Linked DNA regions of Homo sapiens. The protein of the gene in region 1 interacts with the protein of each later gene in a biochemical or structural test. Each region holds a gene or a part of one and is shown in the gene's direction. Other genes may lie near its edges.

The links. The genes of interacting proteins can lie anywhere in the genome.
Region 2: the proteins of KATNA1 (region 1) and CAMSAP3 form a complex in vitro, tested with the Homo sapiens proteins (one study listed by BioGRID).

The regions. Positions count from the first base shown.
Region 1 is NC_000006.12:149,596,436-149,604,042, reverse strand, and holds part of KATNA1 (katanin p60 ATPase-containing subunit A1), read left to right. Parts: intron 1-669; coding exon 670-775; intron 776-2,290; coding exon 2,291-2,449; intron 2,450-5,692; coding exon 5,693-5,819; intron 5,820-6,401; coding exon 6,402-6,536; intron 6,537-6,853; coding exon 6,854-6,980; intron 6,981-7,607. UniProt on the Homo sapiens protein: Catalytic subunit of a complex which severs microtubules in an ATP-dependent manner. Microtubule severing may promote rapid reorganization of cellular microtubule arrays and the release of microtubules from the centrosome following nucleation.
Region 2 is NC_000019.10:7,590,734-7,598,945, forward strand, and holds the start of CAMSAP3 (calmodulin-regulated spectrin-associated protein 3), read left to right. Parts: upstream 1-5,129; 5' UTR 5,130-5,269; coding exon 5,270-5,417; intron 5,418-8,212. UniProt on the Homo sapiens protein: Key microtubule-organizing protein that specifically binds the minus-end of non-centrosomal microtubules and regulates their dynamics and organization.

The DNA.
Region 1 (7,607 bases):
AGTTAACTTTTCCACAAAGTTAGGTATTTTATATTTCTGTTAAAACCTTAATGATTATTAGGTATGGGTTTGAATGATATTAAAAAATATTGGGGACATTAATATTTTATACAATGAAAATACTTTTTTTAACAGAAATTGCCACATGTAGCAGTAGTAGTAGGTATTCTAGTGGTTGGAGATGACTTTATAGTAATCTCTGTGATACTCTTTAACCTTGGCATCTACCTCTTAGTAAAGCTGGAGGCAAAGCAGCTATGTTGTAGCCTGTCTCTGCTTTATACGATTTTTATTCTTTATGCTTTTTTTTAGTTTTAAAATACATGGGCTCATTGTTTCTAAATCATGGAGATTATGGAATGAGGACCATAAGAGCAGGAGTTTAAAATGAGTTGACACATAACCCTGAAGAGTGTGCCTGTAGACTATGTTCTCGTGATCCAGGCTAAAAACTGTCAACCGCCAATAACTGAAGAAAAGGTTGTGCTCTTTATATATCTGCTGGTTGACATGGTGGGCCTCATCACAGTGCATTAGTTCACCCGGGCTCAGAGAGAGGCTCACCATTCTGTCAGCAGTGCAACATCATGTGCTTCCAGTGGTTCTCAAGAGTGACTGCATAGACATGTATCATCTAAAGGGTTGTTAATAAAATGTCTTCTCTTTCAGGGATGATATCGCTGATTTAGTAGAAGCTAAAAAGTTGCTTAAGGAAGCCGTAGTGTTACCAATGTGGATGCCCGAATTCTTTAAGGGCATTAGGAGACCATGGAAAGTAAGTTTATTACTGTGATGGCATTGTCAAAGTAAATGGCAGCATGTTGATACAGAGAGCCAATATTTATCTATATTGGGAAAAGTGGAGGGAGAAAGTGGAGTCAGGAAATGTTTAAATTAAAAGGTATATGTTGTGCTACTGAGAATTTTGTTAGACCAGAAGCTGTTGCATGATTCCTAGAATAAGAAATACATACAATGTGATCTTTGGAAAGTTGAATACACAGCATTAAAATTTAGAATTTGGCCGGGCGTGGTGGCTCACGCCTGTAATCCCAGCACTTTAGGAGGCCGAGGCGGGCGGATCACCTGAGGTCAGGAGTTCGAGACCAGCCTGACCAACATGGAGAAACCCCGTCTCTACTAAAAATACAAAACTAGCCGGGCGTGGTTGTGCGTGCCTGTAATCCCAGCTATCCGGGAGGCTGAGGCAGGAGAATTGCCTGAACCTGGGAGGTGGAGGTTGTGGTGAGCTGAGATCACGCCATTGCACTCCAGCCTGGGCAACAAGAGCGAAACTCTGTCTCAAAAAAAAAAAAAAAAATTAGAATTCACCCCATTTAGAATGAGCTCATATTTGCAAATATGACCTAGTCAGCTAATGCAAAAACACTCCATTTTATATGTCATGTTGCATGATTGTAACCTGTATTTTGGGGATTGTTCTCAATAAATTAATGAGAAATATCTGCATGTGATAAATACTTTTTAAAGTCATGGGCTGATCTAAAAAAAGACCATCAAAAAAGCTTTTCTTGGATTTGGAAAACACACTGATAGGTAACTCTGCATGTATGAATAGTTGTAAAAATCCTTTATACATTAAGTGATAAGCAAGATACAAAATGATAGATATACTTTGAATAAATTATATATATATATGTATTTTGTTTGTTTTGTTTTGAGATGGAGTCTCGCTCTGTCGCCAGGCTGGAGTGCAGTGCGATCTTGCCTCACTGCAATCTCCGCCTAACGGGTTGAATTGATTCCGCTGCCTCAGCCTCCCGAGTAGCTGGGATTACAGGCATGTACCACCACGCCCAGCTAACTTTTTTTGTATTTTAGTAGAAACGGGGCTTCACCATGTTGGCCAGGATGGTCCCAATCTCCTGACCTCGTGATCTGCCTGCCTCGGCCTCTCAAAGTGCTGGGATTACAGGTGTGAGCCACCATGGCTGGCCGAATAAGTTATATTTTTAAACAACCTAATTTGTCTGAGCAAAAGGACAATCAGGATATAAATCCAGATGCTAATGGTACCTCTGTTAGGGTGCTGATATTATAAACTACTTTTTCTCATCTTTGAGTTCCAAATTTTTCATAATGTGGTTATCTTCTTTTTTAACGGGAAGAGTAAATTTGTGACAAAGTATCCTCCTGTTTATCTGTTTGTCTTTTATTTGTCTTGATATTATATATAAGTTGGTCGAAATTTGCTACTTAGTAATGACACTTTTATGAATTAGAACAATGGCAGATAAATCCTCTGCTGAGGCTATTATATTCGCAACAGGGAGTACTGATGGTCGGCCCACCTGGCACGGGGAAGACGCTCCTTGCTAAAGCAGTAGCTACAGAATGCAAGACAACATTCTTCAATGTCTCTTCATCAACTTTGACTTCCAAATACAGAGGAGAATCTGAGAAGCTTGTTCGTCTTCTGTTTGAAATGGTGAATGTTTGAGACAGCTCTAATGATTCTTTACCTCTCTAAAAGGGGAGAAAGTGAGCTGTAACTATCTCCAGTATATGGAATAGTTAGGCAGGATGCCATTTTGCCCAGAGTATGAGTCCTATGCCCTTAAAGCTAGATTTCTTTACAAACATGAATAATTAGAGTTTCTCTTTGTCTCTTTTTCTCCAGATGTAGATCCAAATCTACCAGTTTTGGGGCATGCTCACATTATGGGATCTGCATTACTAATCTTCTGTAGGAATCTGAAATTATGTTTTTTAAATCAATAGGTTTAGTTATAATATGATAACCACAGTATTGTAACAATGATGCCAAAAGGTGAGAATCATAATTTATTGTGGAACTTAGGTCACCTCCGATCTATTAACTGCACCAAATGCCTTCATTTTAATGACCTAATCTTTGGATTAGGTTCTTTCTTCCACCAATACAAATCAGAGTACCAATAGAAGAAATGTAATTCAACAAGTTCTGGTAGAGTGTTTAGATTGAATTCCACAGCCTTTTAAACTTCAGACTTTGTTAAGCTTCACTGATTACGTCACTCTTGCCTCTAAGAAACAGAGTAGTTTTATGTAATTAGGATAGAGTTATGCTATTAGTGACAAAGACGTGAATCTTCTTTTTTTTGAAATGGGTTCTCAGTCTTGCCTAGGCTGGTATGCAGGAGCATGATCACAACTCGCTGCATCCGTGACCTCCCAGGCCCAAGTGCTCTTCCCATCTAAGCCTCCCAAGCAGCTGGGATGATGGACATGAGCCACCACACTCAGCTCATTTTTTTTTTTTTTTTTTTTTTACAGATGGGGTCTTGCTGTGTTGCCCAGGCTGATCTTGAACTCCTGGGTTCAAGTGATCCTCTTGCTTCAGACTCCCAAAGTGCTAGATTTATAGGCATGGGTCACCAATCCTGGTCAAGACATGAATTCTATTTTTTTTGACAGGGTCTCATTCTGTCACCTAGGCTGGAGTGCAGTGTTGCAATCTCGGCTCACAGCAGCCTTCACCTCCTAGCCTCAAGCGATCCTCCCACCTTAGCCTCCTGAGTAGCTGGGACTACACAAGTGCACTACCATGCCTGGCTAATTTTTGTATTTTTAGTAGAGATGAGGTTTTGCCATGTTGACCAGGCTGGTCTTGAACTCCTGACCTCAGGTGATCTGCCCACCTTGGCCTCCCAAAGTGTTAGGATTATAGGTATGAGCCACTGCGCCTGGCCTTTTTTGATTTTTTTGTAGAGATGAAGTCTCACTACGTTGCCCAGGCAGTCTAGAACTCCTGGCCTAACACTCCTCTTGCCTAGACCCCATAAAGTGCCGGGATTACAGGCAAGAGCCATTGTGTTCAGCTTTTTTTTTTTTTTTTTTTTTTTTTTAAGATAAGCTCTCACTATATTGCACAGGTTGTAGTGCAGTGGTTATTCACAGGCACAATCATAGCATACTGCATCCTCCTCTCTCAGCATCCCAAGTAGCTGGGACTTCAGTCGTGTACCACTGCACTCAGCTTTCAAGCCTTATTTTTATTGTCCTTAGGGTAATGAACTCTCAGCAAAGTTAGCCCTCATTTTGTCATAGTTCCAGCAAAAGTCCAAAGATTAATATTTGGCCTGTTTTGAGTTTCATACCTATGCCGAAACTCCTTGTTTTTGGTCAGAGAATTGGAGTGCTCTGATTGGCCAGGTCTGAATAAAACCCCTGGAGTTCCAAGTAAAGTTAGCCTCTTTTGAAGTAGTGGAATAGGAATGAGAGGGGCCCGGCATGGTGGCTCATGCCTGTAATCCCCGCACTTTGGGAGGTTGAGGCGGGCAGATCACTTGAGGTCAGGAGTTCGAGACCAGCCTGGCCAACATGATGAAACCCCGTCTCTACTAAAAATACAAAAATTAGCCAGGTGTGGTGGCGTGCACCTGTAATCCCAGCTACTTGGGAGGCTGAGGCAGGAGAATTGCTTGAACCGGGGTGGCAGAGGTTACAGAGAGAGGGAGAGGGGAGAGGGGAGAGGGGAGGAAAGAAAGAAAGGGATGATTTGCAAATGAAAAAGAGGCTTCTCTTACCAGAAGTGTGCTGTGCAGGGAGAACCAATTGGTGTCCTCTACCGTACCTTCCTGGGCCAGCTAAACCCAGGACACATAGCCTTTCCTTGAAGTCAGATCATTCTACATAACCTCAGTATGTGGGAAGAATCAGTCTAGTCACTTTTGCTTGGTGTGGCAACAGACTGAAGTTTAATTTTTGTTGATGTAGGTGCTTTTGATAGATGCTTCCTAAAATTTTAGTTGAGAATTTTCTTGGATGTTTTAATGATGATGAAGTTCACTCTTTCCCTCTCTCCATTTGTTGAAAAAGTACAAAAATATTTATACATAAAGACCCAAGTATTGACTCTCTTTAAAGATGAAATTATCCCACTAGGTACAGTGGCTCATTGTAATCCTAGCATTTTGGGAGGCCGAGGCAGGAAGATTGCTTGAGTCTAGGAGTTTGAGACCAGCCTAGGCAACATAATAAGACACCATCTCTACCAAAAATATAAAAATAAGCCTGGTGTGGTGGCACACACCTGTAGTCCTAGCTACTCGGGAGGTTGAGGTGAGAGGATTGCTTGAGCCCAGGAGCTCAAGGTTGAAGTGAGCCAAAATCATATCACTGCACTCCAGCCTGGATGACAGAGCAAGACCTTGCCTCTTAAAAAAAAATAAATAAATAAAAAACGGTTCATTAGAAGCCATATTTTAGCTGTTCTAATTCTATCCCATCTCCCCAGTATTAGCGTGAGAGAAAGATGCACAGTGTGGCAGGCTCCTTAGCTGTTTTGTTGTTTTCTTTCTTTCCTCTTGTTTTAGAGACAGGTTCTCACTCTGTCACCCAGTCTGGAATACAGTGGTGTGGTGTGATCATAGCTCACTGCAGCCTTGAACTCCTGGGCTCAAGGGATCCTCTCACCTAGCCTCCTGAGTAGCTGGGACTCAGACACGTGTAACCACACTCAACTAATATTTTAATTTTCTGTAGAGATGGAGTCTTGCTATGTTGCCCAGGCTGGTCTCGAACTCTTGGGCTCAATCCATCCTCCTGCCTCACCCTCCCAGTGTTGGGATTACAGGTGTGAGCCACTGTGCCCAGCCTCCCTCAGCTATTTTCTGATTGCTAATCTGTAGATTATTTTAAAATGAAATAATAGCTTAATAGCTTGATATTGCATGGTTTCTTCCTTTAGGCTCGATTTTATTCTCCAGCCACCATATTTATTGATGAGATAGACTCCATCTGTAGTCGCCGAGGGACTTCTGAAGAACATGAAGCAAGCAGAAGGGTGAAAGCGGAGCTGCTGGTTCAGATGGATGGTATCTGTGTTTAGCTTGAGTTGAACAGGGACGGGAGGTTGTTAGGTGTGGTGTCTCCAGTTCCAGTGGGTCAAACTTTACTCATAGTGCTAACCCAAGCTTTTAATAGGTATTCTTAACTTCAGATGGACTAGAGGGGGTGGCAAGAAGTTCCTGATAGTGATAGTAATAGATTTGGTACACTGACAGTGGTGACAAGTCAGAATTAATGGCCACACACAGGGCACCCTTTTGGTATATACAACTATCTTACTTTAGCTATGAAATTGAAATAAAAATAAATGCAGATAAATTGGCCTTAGAGTTTATGTACGCTTTGAAAAAGATTTAAAATTGTTATGTATTTGAGATCTGGCTTTTCGATTAAATCTATTTTGAGTCATATATTTGCATACTACAGAACTCATTTTCTTTGGATTACAAATTCACATAGGTACCAGTTAACCTAAGTCTTAAGGAGGCATTAAGACTGTGCTTCCTTGTATTGTTGTACTAAATAGTTGTTGATCTTTAAATAGCTGAGCTTCATTTGGTATAATCCAACTTAATATCTTTTTCACTCTCCCCTTACCCTTATTTTAGGTGTTGGAGGTACTTCTGAAAATGATGACCCTTCCAAAATGGTTATGGTTCTGGCAGCTACTAATTTTCCCTGGGATATAGATGAGGCTTTAAGACGACGCCTTGAGAAACGAATCTATATTCCTTTGCCGTCAGGTATCTTCCTTTCAATCTTGTCAGAAAGCCTGTTAACTTTCATGTAGTTTTGTTTAGAGAATTTAAAATTTGTTATTAACTAACTTTCTGGAAGAGATACATGAGGAGTATCTTCCTTTACAGTACTAGTTTGGCTATATGCCTTAATACTAAATAGTAAGGAATTAAAAAGTAAAGAATGGCTCTTTACTTAATTATCTCTTCTTAGAGATCCAATTCTTACTGGAAGACAACATCTCACACAAAGAAGATTTGAGACAATAGTATACTATGTTTATGCTGCAGGCTTACATTTTAAAATTTGTTTCTACCATTAGCAAAAGGCAGGGAGGAGCTATTACGAATAAGTCTACGTGAGTTGGAATTGGCTGATGATGTTGACCTTGCAAGTATAGCAGAAAACATGGAAGGTTATTCAGGTGCGGACATTACCAACGTGTGCAGGTATGAATTATCATGGAAGCATAGGTTTTTGTAAGCATAAACTTCTAGTATGAAGTTTTTTGGTTTTGTTTTTTGAGACACAGTCTCGCTCTGTTGCCTAGACTGGAGAGTAGAGGCGCAGTCACAGCTTACTGCAGCCTGAAACTCCTGGGCTCAAGTGATCCTCTGACGTGAAGTTTTTATGCTGAATTAAGACAGATCAATATCTTGGTGGTGGCTCACGCCTGTAATCTCAGCACTTTGGGAGGCCAAGTGGGAGATCACTTGAGCCCAGGAGTTTGACTGGCCTGGGTAACATTGCAAGACCTCATATCCATGAAAAAAATTTTAAAAATTAGCCGGGCATGGTGGTTCCCACCTGCTCAGGAAGCTGAGGCAGGAGGATCGCTTGAGCCCAGGAGTTTGAGGCTGCAGTGAGCCATGATTGTGCCACTGCACCCCAGCCTGGGCGACAAAGCAAGACCCTGTGTCCAAAGAAAAAAAAAAAAGATGAATAAAGACCCACATTCCAGTTTTGTTTTGTTTTTTGAGACGGAGTCTCGCTCTGTCACCCAGGCTGAAGTGCAGTGGTCCGATCTCGGCTCACTGCAACCTTTGCCTCCTGGGTTCAAGTGATTCTTGTGCCTC
Region 2 (8,212 bases), on another chromosome or scaffold:
CAGGAAAAGCAAACCCACGTGTGAGCCGGCAGGACACGCCAAGCTCACAGAGGGGCAGGTTATGGCAGAAGCACCCTTTCCTGCTGGAAATGCTTCCCCGGGCCAGGAACCCCAGGTCTCCAGATGGGGAAACTGAGGTCCAGTGGGGAAAAGACCTTGTTTAGGTCCTTCGAGGGGACTGGGACAGGAGCCGGGGCATGCGTCATCCACATCAGCACCTGTGCTCACACACACAGACACTGGCCCCTTTGCGCACCCACACCCACTCCTGCACGGGCACATCCAGACAGGAGGGCCCACGCCCCAGCTCCCCTCCCTCGGCACACCCACCCCCATGCCTGCTCACATGCTCCGGACCATGAGACCCACGCCCCAAACACACGTGCCATTTCAACAAAGAGCTAGCTCTGGGGCCACCATCCGGGGTCAAGGGTCTTGGAGACCACCTTGCCACAGCGTCTTTCCATTTCATAGCGTTTTGTTTTTGTTTTTTTTTATGAGACGGAGTTTTTTTGCTCTCATTGCCCAGGCTGGAGTGCAATGGTGCGATTTTGGCTCACCGCAACCTCCACCTCCCAGGTTCAAGCGATTCTCCTGCCTCAGCCTCCTGAATAGCTGGGATTACAGGCATGCGACACCATGCCTGGCTAATTTTGTGTTTTTAGTAGAGATGGGGTTTCTCAATGTTGGTCAGGTTGGTCTTGAACTCCAGACCTCAGGTGATCTGCCCACCTTGGCCTCCCAAAGTGTTGGAATTTATTTATTTATTTATTTATTTATTTTTTTTTTTGAGACGGAGTTTCGCTCTTGTTGCCCAGGCTGGAGTGCAGTGGTGCAATCTCAGCTCACCGCAATCTCTGCCTTCTGGTTTCAAGCAATTCTCCTGCCTCAGCCCCCCAAGTAGCTGGGATTACAGGCATGCACCACCACCTCTGGCTAATTTTTTTTTTATTTTTAGTAGAGATGGGTTTCTCCATGTTGGTCAGGCTGGTCTTGAACTCCGGACCTCAGGTGATCCGCCCACCTCAGCCTCCCAAGGTGCTGGGATTACAGGCGTGAGCCACTGGGCCCGGTCTTTTTTTTTTTTTTTTCTTTTTGAGATGGAGTCCTGCTCTTTCGCCCAGGCTAAAGTGCAGTGGCACGATCTCAGCTCACTGCAACCTCTGCCTCCTGGGTTCAAGCAATTCTTCTGCCTCAGCCTCCTGAGTAGCTGGGATCACAGGCGCCAGCCACCACACACAGGGAATTTTTGTATTTTTAGTAGAGATGGGGTTTCACAATGTTGGCCAGGCTGGTCTCGAATTCCTGACCTCAGGTGATGCACCTGCCTCAGCCTCCCAAAGTGCTGGGATTACAGGAGTGAGCCACTGTGCCCGGCCTGTATGTTATCTTTTTACGTATCACTTTCTGAGTGCATTTGTGTGCATGAAGCTGACATTTACATTTGTGTGAATTTGTGAATATTTGTGTGAGTCTGTGAGCACTTATTCCTGTTCACAAGGTGACAAGGTGCCTATGTATGTGTGTGTGTGTGTGTGTGTTCTGAAAGTAACACACGTTTTTCTTTTCTTTTTTTTTTTTTTTTGAGACAGAGTCTGGCTCTGTCACCCAGGCTGGAGTGCAGTGGCAAGATCTCAGCTCACTTCAACCTCTGCCTCCTGGGTTCAAGCGCTTCTCCTGCCTCAGCCTCCCAAGTAGCTGGGATTACAGGCATGTGCCACCATGCCTGGCTAATTTTTGTATTTTTAGTAGAGACAGGGTTTCACCATGTTGGTCAGGCTGGTCTTGAACTCCTGACTTCAAGTGATCCACCTGCCTCGGCCTCCCAAAGTGCTGGGATTACAGGCTTCAGCCACCGTGCCTGGCCGAAAGTAACACACTTTTCTTTCCAGGCCTGTAAAGAACGAACTCACACAAACACTTGTGCATTCACAATTATATACAGCTAAGAGGCATGCAGGGGATATTTTGACAAAAATACAATGGAGGGCCAAGCACAGTGGCACATGCCTGTAATCCCAGCACTTTGGGAGGCCGAGGTGGGAGGATCCCTTGAGCCTAGGAGTTTGAGATCAGCCTGGGCAATATAAGGAGATCCCATCTCTACACAAAACAAAAAATTAGCCAGGGATGGTGGCTGCAGTGAGCCATGATTGTGCCACTGCACTCAAGCCTGGGGTGACAGAGTGAGATCCTGTCCAAAAAAAAAATAAAACAACAACAACAAAACAAACAATAGAACAAAAGCAAATATTAAAATATTAAAAACATCCGGCTGGGCGCGGTGGCTCATGCCTGTAATCCCAGCACTTTGGGAGGCCGAGGCGGGTGGATCACCTGAGGTCAGGAGATCAAGACCATCCTGACTAACACAATGAAACCCCGTCTCTACTAAAAATACAAAATATTAGCTGGGCATGGTGGCCGGCGCCTGTAGTTCCAGCTACTGGGGAGGCTAAGGCAGGAGAATGGCGCGAACCCGGGAGGCGGAGCTTGCAGTGAGCTAAGATTGCACCACTGCACTCCAGCCTGGGTGACAGAGCGAGACTCGGTCTCAAAAAAAAAAAAAAAAACAAACAGAAAAAAAAAAACCAAAAATCCACAAATCGGTGCTTAGACCTTACAAATAAACACACAATTGCACTCATGTACACAAATATTTGTACTCAACGCGTTCACACACACTTCCATACTTACAGACACAATCAGATTCATACACAGAAATACATTTGCTTACACAGATATGAATTCCTAGATAAATATGCACATTTGAACTCTCACAAAAGCATTCAGACACAGGCATTCTTTTTTTTTTTTTTAATGTGACGGAGTCTCACTCTGTCGCCCATGCTGGAGTACAGTGGTGCAATCCTAGCTTGCTGCAACCTCTGCCTCCTGGGTTCAAGCGATTCTCCTGCCTCAGCCTCCCAAGTAGCTGCAATTATAGGTGTGGGCAACCACGCCCGGCTAACTTTTGTATTTTTAGTAGAGATGGGGTTTCACCATGTTGGCCAGGCTGGTTTTGAACTCCTGACCTCAGGTGATCCACCCGCCTCAGCCTCCCAAAGCACTGGGATTACAGGCATGAGCCACTGCACCCAGCAGAAACAGGCATTCTTGCACAGGTATACCTGCTTTCATGCCTACACAATCTGTCACAGGCACCCACCATATATTCAAATCCACAAAGATACTCACATATAAACACACATATATGCACAAAAATATAGTCAGGAACTGCTCATCATAAATCACACATCTGCTGGGCGCGGTGCCTCAAGCCTGTAATCCCAGCACTTCAGGAGGCCGAGTTGGGCGGATCACGAGGTCAGGAGATCGAGACCATCCTGGCTAACATGGTGAAACCCGGTCTCTACTTAAAAAAAAATACAAAAAACCAGCCGGGCGTGGTGGCGGGTGCCTGTAGTCCCAGCTACTCGGGAGGCTGAGGCAGGAGAATGGCATGAACCCAGGAGGCAGAGCTTGCAGTGAGCCAAGATCGCACCACTGCACTCCAGCCTGAGCGATAGAGCGAGACTCCGTCTCAAAAAATCAATCAATCAATCAATCACACATCCATGTGCATATAGCCAGATTCACATACTCAAATACAAACCCACTTAGACACACAGCCTCACCTCCACACAGAGCCTTCTCCCAGCACACACTGCAGATACCAGAATAATACACAAAGACACTTGCAAATACACCCAGTACAGCTACGCAAGGACACTCATAGACACAAATAGTCACACTCTTGCAGAAATATACACACTTTTTTTTTTTTTTTGAGACAGGGTCTCACTCTGTTGGCCAAGCTGGAGTGCAGTGGCACTATCTCAGCTTCTGCCTCCCTGGTTCAAGCGATTCTCCCGCCTCAGCCTCCCGAGTACTTGGGATTACAGGCATGCACCATTATGCCCGGCTAATTTTTAAAAATTTTATTTTTAGTAGAGACGGGGTTTTGCTATGTTGGCCAGGCTACTCTTGAACTCCTGGCCTCAAGTGATCTGCCCGCCTTGGCCTCCCAAAGTGCTGGGATTACACTCGTGGCCACCGCTCTCGGCCTGAAATACACACACTCTCAATGTCTCTCCATACTCCTGCATTGACAGAGGCATCAATAACAGCCTCATACAACACACCAGTACGTTCAGATGCACAGAGATAGACATACTCACAGCACTCCAAAAACACACACACAGCCGGGCACGGTGGCTGCCGCCTGTAATCCCAGCACTTTGGGAGGCTGAGGCGGGTGATCACCTGAGGTCAGGAGTTTGAGACTAGCCTGGCTAACATGGTGAAACCCCAACTCTACTAAAAATACAAAAATTAGCCGGGAGTGGTGGCGCAACCCCGTAATCCCAGCTACTCGGGAGGCTGAGGCAGGAGAATCGCTTGAGCCTGGGAGGCGGAGGTTGCAGTGAGTCGAGATCGCGCCACTGCACTCCAGCCTGGGAGACAGAGTGAGTGAGACCCTGTCTCAAAAACAAAAACAAAAACAAAAACAAAAAACAGACACACACTCATCACTTCCATCCATCCTCAGGATACAGACATCTATATAATACATATCCTTGTACACACAACAAATTAAACACACACTTACACGTGCCCAGATACATACCCCACACACACACACCCCTAGACACCCCCCAATACACTTGGTCACCACCCAAATGTATTCAGAGATACACAGATACGAAGACACTCATATTCTTGTGCCTTCACTAACATAATCAGAAACAGGTGCACCCAACCACTCTCTGCCTGAGGGCCGGCGTTTATTGCAAGCACTTGCAGGAGCTCCTACGCCTAAGGGTAGACACTGGGGCTGGCACACACAGAGGGTCCCTAATCCTTTCCAGTAAGCTAGGCGCGCGCGCACACACTCACACACGCGCGCGCGCACACATACACACTCAGTCCTCCGCAAGCTCCCTCCACCATCGCCGCAGTCCAGGCCGCCCCCCTCCGCCCCGCCCCTGCTGCTCCGTGCACACTGCAGTGAGGGGCCCGGGCGGGGCGCAGGGGCGCGCCAGGGTCCGGGTCCGGGTTCGGGGGCGGGGCGCACCTGGGCTCCTCCCCGGGGCGGGCCCGACGCAGCGTCGCCAGCGCAAGCGGCCGCACCTGGCTCAGCAGCGGCGGCGGCGGCGGCGGCGGCAGCGGCGGTAGCAGCAGCGGGCCCGGCTGGGGCGCGAGCGCGGCGCAGCCCAGCCCAGCCCAGTCCGAGCGCGGACCCGGCGCCCGCAGCCCCGGCGCCGCCATGGTGGAGGCGGCGCCCCCCGGGCCCGGGCCGCTGCGGAGGACCTTTCTAGTGCCCGAGATCAAGTCGCTGGACCAGTACGATTTCTCGCGGGCCAAGGCGGCGGCCAGCCTGGCGTGGGTGCTGCGGGCCGCGTTCGGGGGCGCAGGTACCGGGGCTCGGGGGACCGGGGTCGGGGGCGGCGGGCCGGGCGCGGCAGGTGCTGGGGGGGGGCGGGGCGCCGGGCCGGGAAGGCAGGGGGCCGTGGGAACAATAGCGCCGGCCGCCGGGGGTCCCCGGGCTCGGGCCCCTGCCGCGCCGGGGCCTCCGAGCTTCCTGCTCGGCCCGGGCGGTGGACTTTGCCCCGCCGGCTGCGGGAGCGCGGTGGGGGTGGGGCCCGCGGCCCAGCTCCGCGCGGGGGTCCCCGGCGTCCAAGCCTCCAGGTGAGCCGGGCGGGGTCTGCGGGCCGGGTGGGGTCTCCCCGTGCGGACCTCTCGTTCCCGCCTCCCGCACCCCCAAGGCCTTCCCTTGCACGCCTTCTTCTCTTTTACACACATCACGCCCCTGCGAGGATCTCCTCTCGGTCTCTTCCCCCGCCACACACCCTGGAGACCCAGACCCCGACCTCGCTGGGGGGTCTCGAGCGCTCCGGTCTCCACCACCGCACGACCCCCAGGCCCCAACACACACCCCGCGTCGGCCCTGGCCGCGCTGCGGGCGGCGACCGGGGAGCTCTGGGAACCCCCTTTCGCCTCCATAGCCCCCTCCAGCGCCTGGCAGCTGCGACTTATGGCCCCATTTTACTGGGGAGGTTGGCGAGCCCAGCTGAAGGGAAATGGGTAGTACAAGATCGCCTGGGGTGGGCCCCCCGCTCCTCCCGGCTGCGGGGCCTTCTCCCATTAGAGCAGATCCTTCACTCCCTCCCCCAGGCCCGCTTGCCTGAGAGCCCGAGCCACCCTAATGGGGAGGATGCCGTAATCCCGGGTCCCCGGGATTAGAGGCCCTGGAAACACTCAGTCTCGGCTTTGGGCAGCTTCACAACCCCAGGCCAGAGCTAGGAGTCAGGGCCTGGCCAGAGAAGACAGGGGTTAATTAAGGTCTGGGCTTTCCAGCGGGGAGCTGTGGGGGTACATCCTTTTCTCCCACTGGTTCTGCCCACTGGTGTTGGCACAGCCCATCCCCCCTCTCCCTGGCCTTCCCAGATCAACCTGTTCTGGGTGTGGGTCTCAGTGACAGCTGTCCGTCTCCTGGTTCCGCCCCAGCCTGTCCCTCTTTCTCCCAGACAGTCTCTGTCTGCGTCGTTCCATGCATGCATTTCCCACTCTGGGGTCTACCTCCCTGCAGATATTTGCTTGAGGAAGAAAGAGATTGGGCATTGGACAGCCAGGACAGCCCCAGCTCCTCACTTCCAAGGTTACCAGGCTGTAGAGAACTCAACGTGGAGTGTCAGAATTGAATGTGAAGTCCAGCTGCACCAGAATGCGAATTATCCCAATTATCTGAGCTTCTGTTTCCCCTTCTATAAAAGAAGGCGTTCATTCACAGACTTATCTGTTTTGCGAATGTTTGTGGGGCAGGGGCACTTGCTATGTGTAGGGCACTGCTCCAGTGATGGAGACCCCCCGTTACCTCTTTGCAAGGTTGCTGGGAGGCGTAAAAGCTGTAGTGACCACAGAATTCTTCGCGTGGCACGGGGCGCGTGATACATGCGAAACGGTTGCTCGCTGCTGGTGTGATTGGCGGTGGTATATTTTGATGAATAATATTAACGTTATCCATTATCCCCTGGCCAGGAATCAGAGTAGAAATTATCCCATTTTGAAGACAGCAAAGCAAACTTCTGATGAGGGGTGTTGGTGAGCTCCCAGTGCCCTGACTCACCCAGTTCTGTTCTTGTTGACCCAGCTCCCTCTGCTGTGTGACACACGGCAGTGGCTGCCTCTACCGTGAGGGTCAAGTTCAATCTGTTCCCTGTTCCACTCCCCTAAAAAGAGGAGAAGGGCTGAAGGAAATGGGAGCAGAGTTCTACAAGATTCATGAGCTCTGGGGACTCTTGACGGTATGATACCTATCAGGTGCTGGGCTGGGCGCTCAGGGTGTAGAGGAGACGGCAGGGGATGGATATGGGGCAGAGGGGGATGGGCAGGAAACCAGATCATAGGGAAGCTGGCCAGCGGGGCCTGGGGAAAGAAATTCTTGAAATCTTCCAGGGAGGGAAGAGATCCCACAGGTGGAAAGATTTGAGTCTGGAAGGATGCATGGAAGTTTGACACGGAGAAGAGATGTGTGGGCAGTGGGCAAAGGCTCGGAGTGTGGACCAGCAGGGAGTTCTCAGAGAATAAGATGCAGGTCCCCGGGGTGGCGGTGGGAGATAAGGGAGGCTGGTCAGACTGAGGAAGGCCCTTCAGGCCCCTGGTTATGGATCCAAGGGTACTGGGGAGCCACGGACAGTGTTGGGAACTGACAAGATCAGGTATGCAGTGGCCCCGTGGGAGTAGTGATGGCTCAGAGGAAGGGATAGTTCTGGCAACTCCAAGGCACAGGTGTGAGAAGGCTGTGCAGAAATAAAAGCAGAACACAAGCTTGGAGATTAGATAAGAAAGGGTTCCAAGCCTGGCCAACACGATGAATCCCCGTCTCTACTAAAAATCCAAAAATTAGCCGGGAATGATGGCACACGTCTGTAGTCCCAGCTACTTGGGAGGCTGAGGCAGGAGAATTGTTGAACCTGTGAGGCGGAGGTTGCAGTGAGCCGAGATTGCACCACTGCACTCCAGCCTGGGTGAAAGAGAGAGACTCTGTCTCAAAAAACAAAGGGTTCCATGTTAAACACATTTGGAAAACACCCCATGCAGTTCTTTATGCCTTCAGAACAGATGTGTGATGTGTGAGGGAAACTCAAGTTCATGTTGGACATTTTTATCCTGGACAAGTTATCTCAGCTCTCCAGGCCTTGGTTTTCTC